Linked DNA regions of Homo sapiens. The protein of the gene in region 1 purifies or fractionates together with the protein of each later gene. This does not show direct contact. Each region holds a gene or a part of one and is shown in the gene's direction. Other genes may lie near its edges. The genes, in order: GSK3B, PPP1R2 and EPB41L3.

What was found.
Region 2: the proteins of GSK3B (region 1) and PPP1R2 purify together in Homo sapiens (affinity purification with mass spectrometry; 6 studies listed by BioGRID and IntAct, with this or other methods). This does not show direct contact.
Region 3: the proteins of GSK3B (region 1) and EPB41L3 purify together in Homo sapiens (affinity purification with mass spectrometry; 4 studies listed by BioGRID and IntAct, with this or other methods). This does not show direct contact.

What each region holds. Positions count from the first base shown.
Region 1 is NC_000003.12:119,821,809-119,825,563, reverse strand, and holds part of GSK3B (glycogen synthase kinase-3 beta), read left to right. Parts: 3' UTR 1-3,755. UniProt on the Homo sapiens protein: Constitutively active protein kinase that acts as a negative regulator in the hormonal control of glucose homeostasis, Wnt signaling and regulation of transcription factors and microtubules, by phosphorylating and inactivating glycogen synthase (GYS1 or GYS2), EIF2B, CTNNB1/beta-catenin, APC, AXIN1, DPYSL2/CRMP2, JUN, NFATC1/NFATC, MAPT/TAU and MACF1.
Region 2 is NC_000003.12:195,515,659-195,519,413, reverse strand, and holds part of PPP1R2 (protein phosphatase inhibitor 2), read left to right. Parts: intron 1-228; coding exon 229-396; intron 397-2,471; coding exon 2,472-2,518; 3' UTR 2,519-3,755. UniProt on the Homo sapiens protein: Inhibitor of protein-phosphatase 1.
Region 3 is NC_000018.10:5,418,327-5,422,081, reverse strand, and holds part of EPB41L3 (band 4.1-like protein 3), read left to right. Parts: intron 1-2,150; coding exon of another isoform or gene 2,151-2,204; coding exon 2,205-2,371; intron 2,372-3,755. UniProt on the Homo sapiens protein: Tumor suppressor that inhibits cell proliferation and promotes apoptosis. Modulates the activity of protein arginine N-methyltransferases, including PRMT3 and PRMT5.

The sequences.
Region 1 (3,755 bases):
ATACCTGCTGACTTTATAGGAAAGCTGATGATATAAATGTGTGTATATATGTTATATATACATATATTCAATACTGCCTTTTTTTTTGTCTACAGTATCAAAATTGACTGGTTGAAGCATGAGAAGAATGTTTCCCCCACACCCAGTTAAGAGTTTTTGTGTCTGTTTTCTTTGTGTATCAGTGAACGATGTTAAGAATCAGTCTCTCTTTTTGAAGAAAAAGCAATATTCCTTGGAAAGCAAGGAGAATTGAAGGACTATGTTTGCCGTGAGGAAATAGATTTTCATGACTAGTTTGTTTTATACTTTTAAGGTTGGCATCTATGTGGGCCTTATATACTCTAAAATGAACTTTAGTCACCTTGGTGCTTATGGGCCATTACTTGACCTATGAATCTTTAAGGCACAATCAGTTGTACTTTACATTTAAAGATCACTTGAGTGATGGCCGCCTTTCCCTCCTACCCGCTCCTTCCCCACATGCCTTCCAAGGTTAGCTGGTAACTGTAGGGCTGCAGAGCTGAGCCCATGGTTGTGTGTAACTTGCCCTCACCCTCCTCATTGCCACCTTAGGTCACTTTATGGGTCTCGTCCTCCAGAGGGTTCGGAAGTGGAGTCTGTTGGCAGCCCTCCTGCAGGCCCTAGCACCCTGTCCTGCTCCTTAACTGTGTGTGTGACTCTCCAAGAGAGTTGTCCTGCCTGCTGAAGTGAACCAGTACCCAGAAAGACAACTGTGAGCCATCTTGGTTTTCACTCGCTGTTTAGCTGAGGTCTTGGGCCACAAAAGGGGTTTCACAAACCTCTGGATATATCAGAGTTTATGAGAAAGGAAACATGCTCAGTCAAACCAAATCAAACAAATTGAATTTTATGTTTTATAAAGTGCTTCTGAAAGCTAAGATTTGAAAGAAGTCTGAAATCAAAGTATTTGGCAGCATAACTCCTTAAAGGTAGTGGCGTTGATAGACCATTTTCAGACAGAATTTATAAAGAATCTGAAAAGGCAGGTCTGTGATAGAGAAATGGACCTGCATTCAGATCCAACTGCCCAGCAAGCGTTTGGATGCAGACACTGCTCTGGACGTGGTATACTCCCCAGAGTCCATAAAAATCAGTGCTTATTTTAGGAAACAGGTTGCCCCCCACAACTGGGGTAAAAGAAGAGAGAAAAGTCACGCTTTTCTCTCATTTCATTGTGTGTGCATGTGTGCGTGTGTGTGTGTGTGTGTGTGTGCTGAGATGTGTGATTTTTCTTTCTCAAGGATCATGGTGGGATCACAGAACTCTTTTATACAAGTGAGATCCAGGTCTCTGAATATCTTTTTGTATATAATAATAATAAAAAGCTCCTCACCAAATTCAAGCTTGTACATTATATTTTCTTTCTGTGTTTTTAAATTTAAGTTTTATTGTTTTGTATGTAAATATGTGGACCCAGGAACTGTTATTAATGAGCAAAAAGTTACTGTTCAGGGCAGTGATTCTGTTTAATAATCAGACAAAATGTAGACGAGCTTTTTAAAGCCATATAGTTTTAACTCTGTACAGTAGGTACCGGCCTGTATTATTGTAACAATAACTCTAGCAATGTATAGTGTATCTATATAGTTTGGAGTGCCTTCGCTTCCATGTGTTTTTTTTTTTAATTTGTTCTTTTTTAAATTTTAATTGGTTTCCTTTATCCATGTCTCCCTGTCCACCCCCTTTCCCTTTGAAATAATAACTCACTCATAACAGTATCTTTGCCCCTTCCACAGTTAAGTTTCAGTGATACCATACTCAGGAGTGGGAAGAGGAAATCATATTCGTAATTTCATTTCGTTGAAGCCCTGCCTTTGTTTTGGTTCTGAATGTCTTTCCTCCTCGGTAGCAGTGAGACCGGTTTCATTTCATACTTAGTCCATTCAGGGACTTAGTGTAGCACCAGGGAGCCCTAGAGCTGGAGGATATCGAATAGATTAAATTTTGCTCGTCTCTTCCACAAGCCCTAACCATGGGTCTTAAAAACAGCAGATTCTGGGAGCCTTCCATGCTCTCTCTCTCTCCTCTTTTATCTACTTCCCTCCCAAATGAGAGAGTGACAGAGAATTGTTTTTTTATAAATCGAAGTTTCTTAATAGTATCAGGTTTTGATACGTCAGTGGTCTAAAATGCTATAGTGCAATTACTAGCAGTTACTGCACGGAGTGCCACCGTGCCAATAGAGGACTGTTGTTTTAACAAGGGAACTCTTAGCCCATTTCCTCCCTCCCGCCATCTCTACCCTTGCTCAATGAAATATCATTTTAATTTCTTTTAAAAAAAATCAGTTTAATTCTTACTGTGTGCCCAACACGAAGGCCTTTTTTGAAAGAAAAATAGAATGTTTTGCCTCAAAGTAGTCCATATAAAATGTCTTGAATAGAAGAAAAAACTACCAAACCAAAGGTTACTATTTTTGAAACATCGTGTGTTCATTCCAGCAAGGCAGAAGACTGCACCTTCTTTCCAGTGACATGCTGTGTCATTTTTTTTAAGTCCTCTTAATTTTTAGACACATTTTTGGTTTATGTTTTAACAATGTATGCCTAACCAGTCATCTTGTCTGCACCAATGCAAAGGTTTCTGAGAGGAGTATTCTCTATCCCTGTGGATATGAAGACACTGGCATTTCATCTATTTTTCCCTTTCCTTTTTAAAGGATTTAACTTTGGAATCTTCCAAAGGAAGTTTGGCCAATGCCAGATCCCCAGGAATTTGGGGGGTTTTCTTTCTTTTCAACTGAAATTGTATCTGATTCCTACTGTTCATGTTAGTGATCATCTAATCACAGAGCCAAACACTTTTCTCCCCTGTGTGGAAAAGTAGGTATGCTTTACAATAAAATCTGTCTTTTCTGGTAGAAACCTGAGCCACTGAAAATAAAAGAGACAACTAGAAGCACAGTAGAGTCCCAGACTGAGATCTACCTTTGAGAGGCTTTGAAAGTAATCCCTGGGGTTTGGATTATTTTCACAAGGGTTATGCCGTTTTATTCAAGTTTGTTGCTCCGTTTTGCACCTCTGCAATAAAAGCAAAATGACAACCAGTACATAAGGGGTTAGCTTGACAAAGTAGACTTCCTTGTGTTAATTTTTAAGTTTTTTTTTCCTTAACTATATCTGTCTACAGGCAGATACAGATAGTTGTATGAAAATCTGCTTGCCTGTAAAATTTGCATTTATAAATGTGTTGCCGATGGATCACTTGGGCCTGTACACATACCAATTAGCGTGACCACTTCCATCTTAAAAACAAACCTAAAAAACAAAATTTATTATATATATATATATATATATATAAAGGACTGTGGGTTGTATACAAACTATTGCAAACACTTGTGCAAATCTGTCTTGATATAAAGGAAAAGCAAAATCTGTATAACATTATTACTACTTGAATGCCTCTGTGACTGATTTTTTTTTCATTTTAAATATAAACTTTTTTGTGAAAAGTATGCTCAATGTTTTTTTTCCCTTTCCCCATTCCCTTGTAAATACATTTTGTTCTATGTGACTTGGTTTGGAAATAGTTAACTGGTACTGTAATTTGCATTAAATAAAAAGTAGGTTAGCCTGGAAATGAAATTAAAATTCACAAGTGTGTGGTCTTTATTTCAGTACCCAACCCTCTTCCTTCACCCTACTATTTTGCCGCTGCAATATGTAGTCACATCACCATTTCCATTCCTCTAATTAGGGAAACATTAATCTTTGTTATACAGAACAAGATATCAA
Region 2 (3,755 bases), about 76 Mb from region 1:
ATTCTTGTTCTTCCATTGAGATGAATGCCAGATAGTAAATATTTTAAATTTTGCAGGGCCCAGTGGTCTCTATTACGAACTACTCAACTCTGCCATTGAACACAAAAGCAGCCTTAAGCATGACAAAAACAAATGAGCATCACTGTTTCAATAAAATTTTATTTATAAAACAGGCATGGGCCAATCCTTGAGCTCAAACTTCCTAAGTTTACATTTTGCATCTTATAGAAAAAAAGCGACAATTTGAAATGAAAAGGAAGCTTCACTACAATGAAGGACTCAATATCAAACTAGCCAGACAATTAATTTCAAAAGACCTACATGATGATGATGAAGATGAAGAAATGTTAGAGACTGCAGATGGAGAAAGCATGAATACGGAAGAATCAAATCAAGGTTAGATGTTTGGAAAATGTCACTGAGACTTTTGTAATGGTCTATGCCTAAGATAATGTACTTTATTTTGCTTTAAACTTGTGAAAAAACAGAAAATTTTGCTGAGATTCGCTTTATTATACCAAATGTTTCTAAAGTTTTAACCCGCATGGCCAATTTCAGAATAATAAAGTTTTTATACCTAGAGTTGATTTGATTTTAGACCATATGTTTTATTATATGGCTTTCTTATGGTTTACTTGCCTTTAGGCAAGGATGTTTGTCTTCATATTAAGCTATATTTTGTTTTGAATATTTTAGGTCATGTTGTATTTGTCATAACGATCTAAAATTTAAAATTTTTAAATGAAACTTTTTTTTTTTTTTTGAGACAGAGTCTCGCTCTGTCACCCAGGCTGGAGTGCAGTGGCGTGATCTCGGCTCACTGCAAGCTCCGCCTCCTGGGTTCCCGCCATTCTCCTGCCTCAGCCTCCCGAGTAGCTGGGATTACAGGCGCCTGCCACCACGCCTGGCTGATTTTTTGTATTTTTAGTAGAGATGGGGTTTCACCATGTTAGCCAGGATGGTCCCAATCTCCTGACCTTGTGATCCGCCCGCCTCGGCCTCCCAAAGTGCTGGGATTACAGGCATGAGCCACCGCGCCCAGCCTGAAACATGTTTTTAGTATGGAAGATTTGGTTTTACATCCCGTTAGATACAAAGTATGTCATATCTTTCCAATACGGATTCTTTTGACTGTTGGATTGACAAGTTATTTAACTGTTTTTGTTTTTATTTTTTTTTTAAGTCTTAGACACCCAGCCCCTGCAGCCTAGCAACTCCTGATCTGTCATAGGAAATAGGTTTTATTTATTTTTTATGAACTGTTACTCTGGTATTTAATGAAGTGAATCTTCTGCATCACTAATGGAGATTTTTTGTGCCCACCACCTACTCCTTGTACTTACAAACTTCATACTTTTCAGTGGAGGCGTAACTGATGTTATTTGTGGTGCCCAGAATGGTTAAGTCTTAGGAAATTAAATAATTATTGTATTACCATTTTGGTAAGCATAGTATTAAATATGAATAATTCTATGATACAGCCTGATGAGTTGCTGTCTCATAGTGTCAGGATTACAGTACTTTTTGTTATTCCGTAATATGCTTCAACCTTTTAGTCTATTTCATATAGCCTTTCATTTCCATTATATATCCCATAGTCTGTTTAACTTATATTTAACTTGAGCAAACTTCATCTTACATAGTAGCTGTGGCATGTTTTTATTATCCATTTTTATTTTTATTTTATTTTTTGTTATAGAGGCAGCGTTTTTTGTTTGTTTGTTTTAACGCCATTTCTTTTGAAAAATAACTATGGCATTTTGTCCGTCTCTGCTTATAAGATATTACATTTCACATATTTAGTACATAAATATATTTTTTGTTTAAGTTTAATGGAGGATTAAAATTTTGTATTAGGTCAGTGCCTGATTTTTCTTCACTGGAGATGAAGTACACCTTGCAAAGGAGTATATCCTGCTTAGCATTATAAAACCCACAAGAATAGGATAAGACTTAGGGAAATAAGTACCTTATTTACCCCCTACCCTTTTTGGGCCCTTAACATTTTACCAGCTTTTCAGATCTCTAAGTTCTATAGAACCCATTAGTTTTGGGACAGTGCCAGTCTCCTCCCTTCCCCCTTTCCTCCCCCATTCACACAATTCATTGGAGAAAATGACATGTTTGGACTCTTAGGTGATATTTTATAGCTTTCAGGTAATAAATATGTATCTTTTTATAGCTCTGGATATTGGAGTTGTCGTAAACTCTTACCTTTCCACCTGTGACTTACAGAAATGTTCAATCTGAAACCTGTTTGTTTTATCAGCAAGTAGACACTTCTGTTCTTTAGACTATTTAGGGGAGTGTATAGATTCTTCAATTTCAGTCTAAATCAGCCTACATGAAATATACCTTATTTGTTTTTAAAATTTTTATATTTGCTTGTCATGCATGCTAATAGAAGGGAACTTTAGCCAGGGTTGACAACATATAACAAATTATGTTGACTTTTTCTTTTATCTTTGCAGGATCTACTCCAAGTGACCAACAGCAAAACAAATTACGAAGTTCATAGACGAGATTTGTTCAACACTGCAATTGTTTGTTAGATGTAAACCCTGTGACTATAGTACGTTGCTTCTTGTTCTTCACAATTCATGACTTAAGTACCAAAATGCATACCAGTTATTATATATTGCCAAGAATTAAATGATAAACTTAGAGACTGATTAGACTGAAAATGCCTAATCGATATATATATTCTTGTGCCTAGTACTTTACCACAAATACAGTGTAATATCATCAGTCCAAAACTGCATTACTTTTGTAAAAACACTGGTTAATTTGTATAAGATATTATAGAGCTTTTTATGCTTTAGAAGTTAAACAATATCTTTGGGGGGGAACTAATTTATTTTCATCACTTGAAATGTGGTAGCTCTTACAAAGTTTATTGATTTGATTTTTTTAAAAATCAAAAGCCAATTGAACAACAGGATATATAGACTGATAAATATTTAGGCTGAATAGTATTTTAACACTTGTCTTCAACTTGATTTGTCTGTTTAATTGAAAAGAATTATAAGAGTTACTGTTGCATTTTCTGACCTACTATTTTTAAAATTCCTGTTGAGTTTCTTTGTGTTTACAAGGAAAGGACTGAACTTTTTCTCATCAAAACTAGCTTTTTTCCCCACAAATAAATTATCAGGTTAAACTTTCACCAATGTCTGCTCTGTTTTTTGTTTTTGGGGGGTTTTTGTTTGTTTTTGTTTTTTAATGTTTTTGGTACACTGGGCAGACTTCAGAGCAGTTTTTTAAAAAAATAAATATTCTAATGTAGCTATCTCGCCATTCCCTTTAAATACCTGTCTTAACCTCCTGCTTTTCTTTCCTACTCCTTTCCACACATACGCACACAATCTTCTACCTTTTAAAGGATCATTAAGACTGTCACCACATTAGGAGCTCTTTCTCTCACTCTTCTGTCATTTGCTGCTATGTTGAAATTCTTATTTTGACCATCAATGCCTATGAATTCTTCTAATACGTGAAGAAAATAGTTTGAGTAGCAGCAGTGCTATAGGTGGGAAATACAGTTTAGCTGCTGAATTTCTATACCTCTCTGATTTACAGATTGCTAATTAAATGGCTATTATTAGTTTGGATTAATTAGACTTAAGAAAACAACTAACTGAGGGTTTTTTTTGTTTGTTTTTTGAGGGTTTTCTTTGCATGAGAATTGTATGTAACCAGTGATATGATTATTCCTGAATGTACAGACAGAAGTAAGCCTGGACATTGTTAAATAG
Region 3 (3,755 bases), on another chromosome or scaffold:
GGGCTGTTGTGAAAAGCAAGATATATGTGAAAGCACTCTTGTTACATAGGTAATTATCTCAATAATCATATTGATAATTACTCTTTTTTCACATTTTTTTAAAATTTCAGTAGCTTTTGAGATACAAGCAGTCGGTTTTTGGCCACATGGCTGAATTGTATAGTAGTGAAGTCTGAGATTTTAGTGCACCTGTCACCTGAGTAGTGCACATTGTACCCAATATGTAGTTTTTTATCCGTCACCACCACCCCCGCCACTGTCTGCCTTCTGAGTCTCCAGTGTCCATTATATTACTCTGTGCCTTTGCATACCCATAGCTTAGCTCCCACTTATACATGAGAACGTATGGTATTTGGCTTTTCATTCCTCAGTTACTTCATGTAGAATAATGACCTTCAGCTCCATCCAAGTCACTTCAAAATACATGATTTCATTCATTTTTATGACTGAGTAGTATTCCATGATGTATATATACCACATTTTATATTCATAATTATTCTTACAGGCTTTTGTGAGCTAGCCTAGGAAGTTAATTGCCATTGTGTGTCTTCTAAGAGTTTCCAGAATACCGAACTTAGAGCCAGCCCTTTTGAATAAAATAATTACCAGGACTGTTTCGAGCTGAATTAAGATATTGAAATATCGATGTTAACATTGAAGCTTTTCTTTCTGGTTTATCCTATTGACTCTTGTTTCTCCTTTAGAGTGTCTCTATTACCTATTTCTATATGTTATCAGTATTTGAGGAACTTTGTAGAATCGCACTTTTTTTTTCCTGAATATCATCCACTTTGTTCAGTGACGTGCACCCCAGGGAACACATTTGTTGTGAATGTTGTTTTCCTTATGACCTTTAGTGTGATAATGACTGCTGAGAAGACAGAAGACAATTGTGAAATCAGTGTACTAATGTCATGCTGTCTCTTTCTCCCTGCCCAAAAGTGATGTTAGTATGTGTTGTCTCTCACTCCTTGCGGTCCTGCCAGCTCTAGTATGTTTTCTGCTGCTGTTGAGCTGGGTGGCACAGCTGCATGTTGCAACATAAACTGCTTTTTTGCAAGGTTGCATCTCACAGAGAATGGCCTAACTGGTCCATTAGGAAGTTGTGTCTCATATGAGCTTTTTCAACGGTGTAAAGAGATATAAAATGTCTTAGTGAAGATATTTTAGTGACATAGTTTAGCTATCGAAAGCATTTCAGAGAGGATTTCATTTCAGAATCCTTTCTTTTATTTACGTTTTTAAATTCCTAAAATAATAATGTAGATATTTTGTCTGTGATTAGTTACTGTGTATTTGAAAAGCAACATTTATAAGTTTTAATAAATTTTATATCTAAAACCTAAAATAATGAGTACCAACTTTTAAAACTTAATTAAGCATCTTTTCACTAAGACGTTTTAGCTGGGATGAAAGGCTCTGTCTTATTCTCTTGAGTTTGCATGTTTTGCATTTGCATGAATTTCATTTAGCAACATTCATTGTGTTTTCCCAAAATATTAGAGATGAGTAAATGTATATGCATATTATGGTAGTCTGTTTAAAATGCAGTAGAAATGAAAACATTTCTGTACTTTAGGTGAATGGAATTGCCATCTGATTTTTATAATCTCTACCAAGATGGTTAATATTTGTTATTACCCATGGAGCTTTTATACTGTAAGAGTGATAGACTTTTCAACATTAATAATAATAATATGAAAACCAATTCAGTGCTCCTTGGTGAATGGCACTTCCAAAGAGCCAAGTGTATTAGAGCAATTGTGTACTGCAAAGACTGCTGTTAGGTGTGGAATTGGCCACTACGAGACTGGTGCCAGTGCCAGCCAATGGTGATAATATGCCCAGCGGCAGCCTCGCCTCATGACCCTCCACTCACCTCCACACTTACACACATCCTCAGCAGAGAGTCTGAGGATAGATGAAATTCCAAGACATGAGCATTTCACGAATTTTAAAGCACTCATATAGGAAATACAGGAAGGTCATGCTCTCATGAAGGTCCCTGCAGCACTGATTTGTTTTTTCAAGGCAAACCTGGTATTTTGTGTTGGTATTTTTTTTTTCAGTAAAGATATAGTTGGTATTGTTCATGTGTCTTCTGACCTAACTATTTTGGATTTTATTTCTTTAATTGTATTTGCTTTTAGCATCAGTGAATGAAAACCATGAAATATACATGAAGGATTCTATGTCTGCTGCAGAGGTTGGTACTGGCCAGTACGCCACAACAAAAGGCATCTCTCAGACCAACTTGATCACCACTGTGACTCCGGAGAAGAAGGCTGAGGAGGAGCGGGACGAGGAAGAGGACAAACGGAGGAAGGGGGAAGAAGTCACGCCCATCTCGGCCATCCGGCACGAGGGAAAGGTATAGCTCCCAGACTGCCTGCAAGAGCTTGCTCCAGCTTTTAAGAATGACTAAATGATGCTGAGGCTGTAAACCAGGAATGTGCTCAGATTTAGGATAAATCATATGTCAGCACTGGTCACATTCATATGTCAATTTTTAAATTATGATTGCTGTTTCAACATTTTTTCTCTGAAAGGTTCATTCATAGCTCTTTGAAAATTTTTATTTTAATAACTTGTGTGCTATGTAAGACTTTCAATAGCTGTCCTGTATGTGTATCTTAAAAATACTTTTGGTGGCGTATTACACTTTTCTGTTTGGGCTCACATTTCAGAACTGTCACTAAAGCTGTTTTCTTTGTTTCTGGCCCCATTCTCCTACCCAAGTACAGCATATTTTTCTAGATATACAATTATCATATTGCCATTCTTCTGACTGTAAGTACATGGAGTGACCACAGCCTACATATTTATACTTACGCCTAATCAGCAGAGTAGTGACTGGCCATGTTTTGAAAAGGGATCTTAAGGCAGAAAGTTGCAACAGGAGATAAAAAGGGAATTTGGCAGCAGCTTCTTCTTTCAGTGTTGAATTCATTAAACTTTGTAACATTGTTTCACCCCAAATTAAATATCTTTTTTAACACCATTTTTAAACACTATGTTTTTTTCTGGTGATCCAGCACTACAAAGCAACTTTTCAGAAAAATAATTTAAAAGTCAAAAAACCCTTCAGGAGGCTTATACCTAATAATAAGGGAAAAACAGAGTGGCTCCTGGCCTGTACAGAGCATAGAGTAAGAGGAAATAGCAGAATGAAAATGCTCATAATAACCCATGGGTTATCCTAAAATTTGAGTAAATTTGATTCACGAGTGATCTTTTGTACATGGGCTCTTCAAATAGAGATGGAGAATCACTACCCCGAATTCTATGGAAAGTGTTCCTTTTGATGAGAATTTAGCAGTGACATCTTAACATAGACAAATAATTTTTGTAGTTATGCTAAAATATTACAAATGGCCCAATCCATCATCTTTTATTTTTTGGGATAAGATTATTTATTTGGCAAACACAAAATTAAGCAGAGAGTAGGAAATAATGGCAGGGATATTTCGATAACTTTTGCTGTTAAAATGTGCTTTGTTCTAAATTTTGTTTTTACACTCTTCCTGTCTGTTCAGTCAAGGAAGGCTTTAAAGGGGACAGAAAAGAATATAATCCACCCAAAAAACAAATATGTGGTTCTTCTTCTTAGTTATTCTAACATTTTATAAACTCGCCATGCCAACATAAGATTCCCATGGATGTATAAGTATTGAAGAAGTGACACATCAATGTAAGTGATTTTTAGTTTTGCTCCCAAGATAAGGCCGGACATTTTCACTTTATTTGCTTTTAAA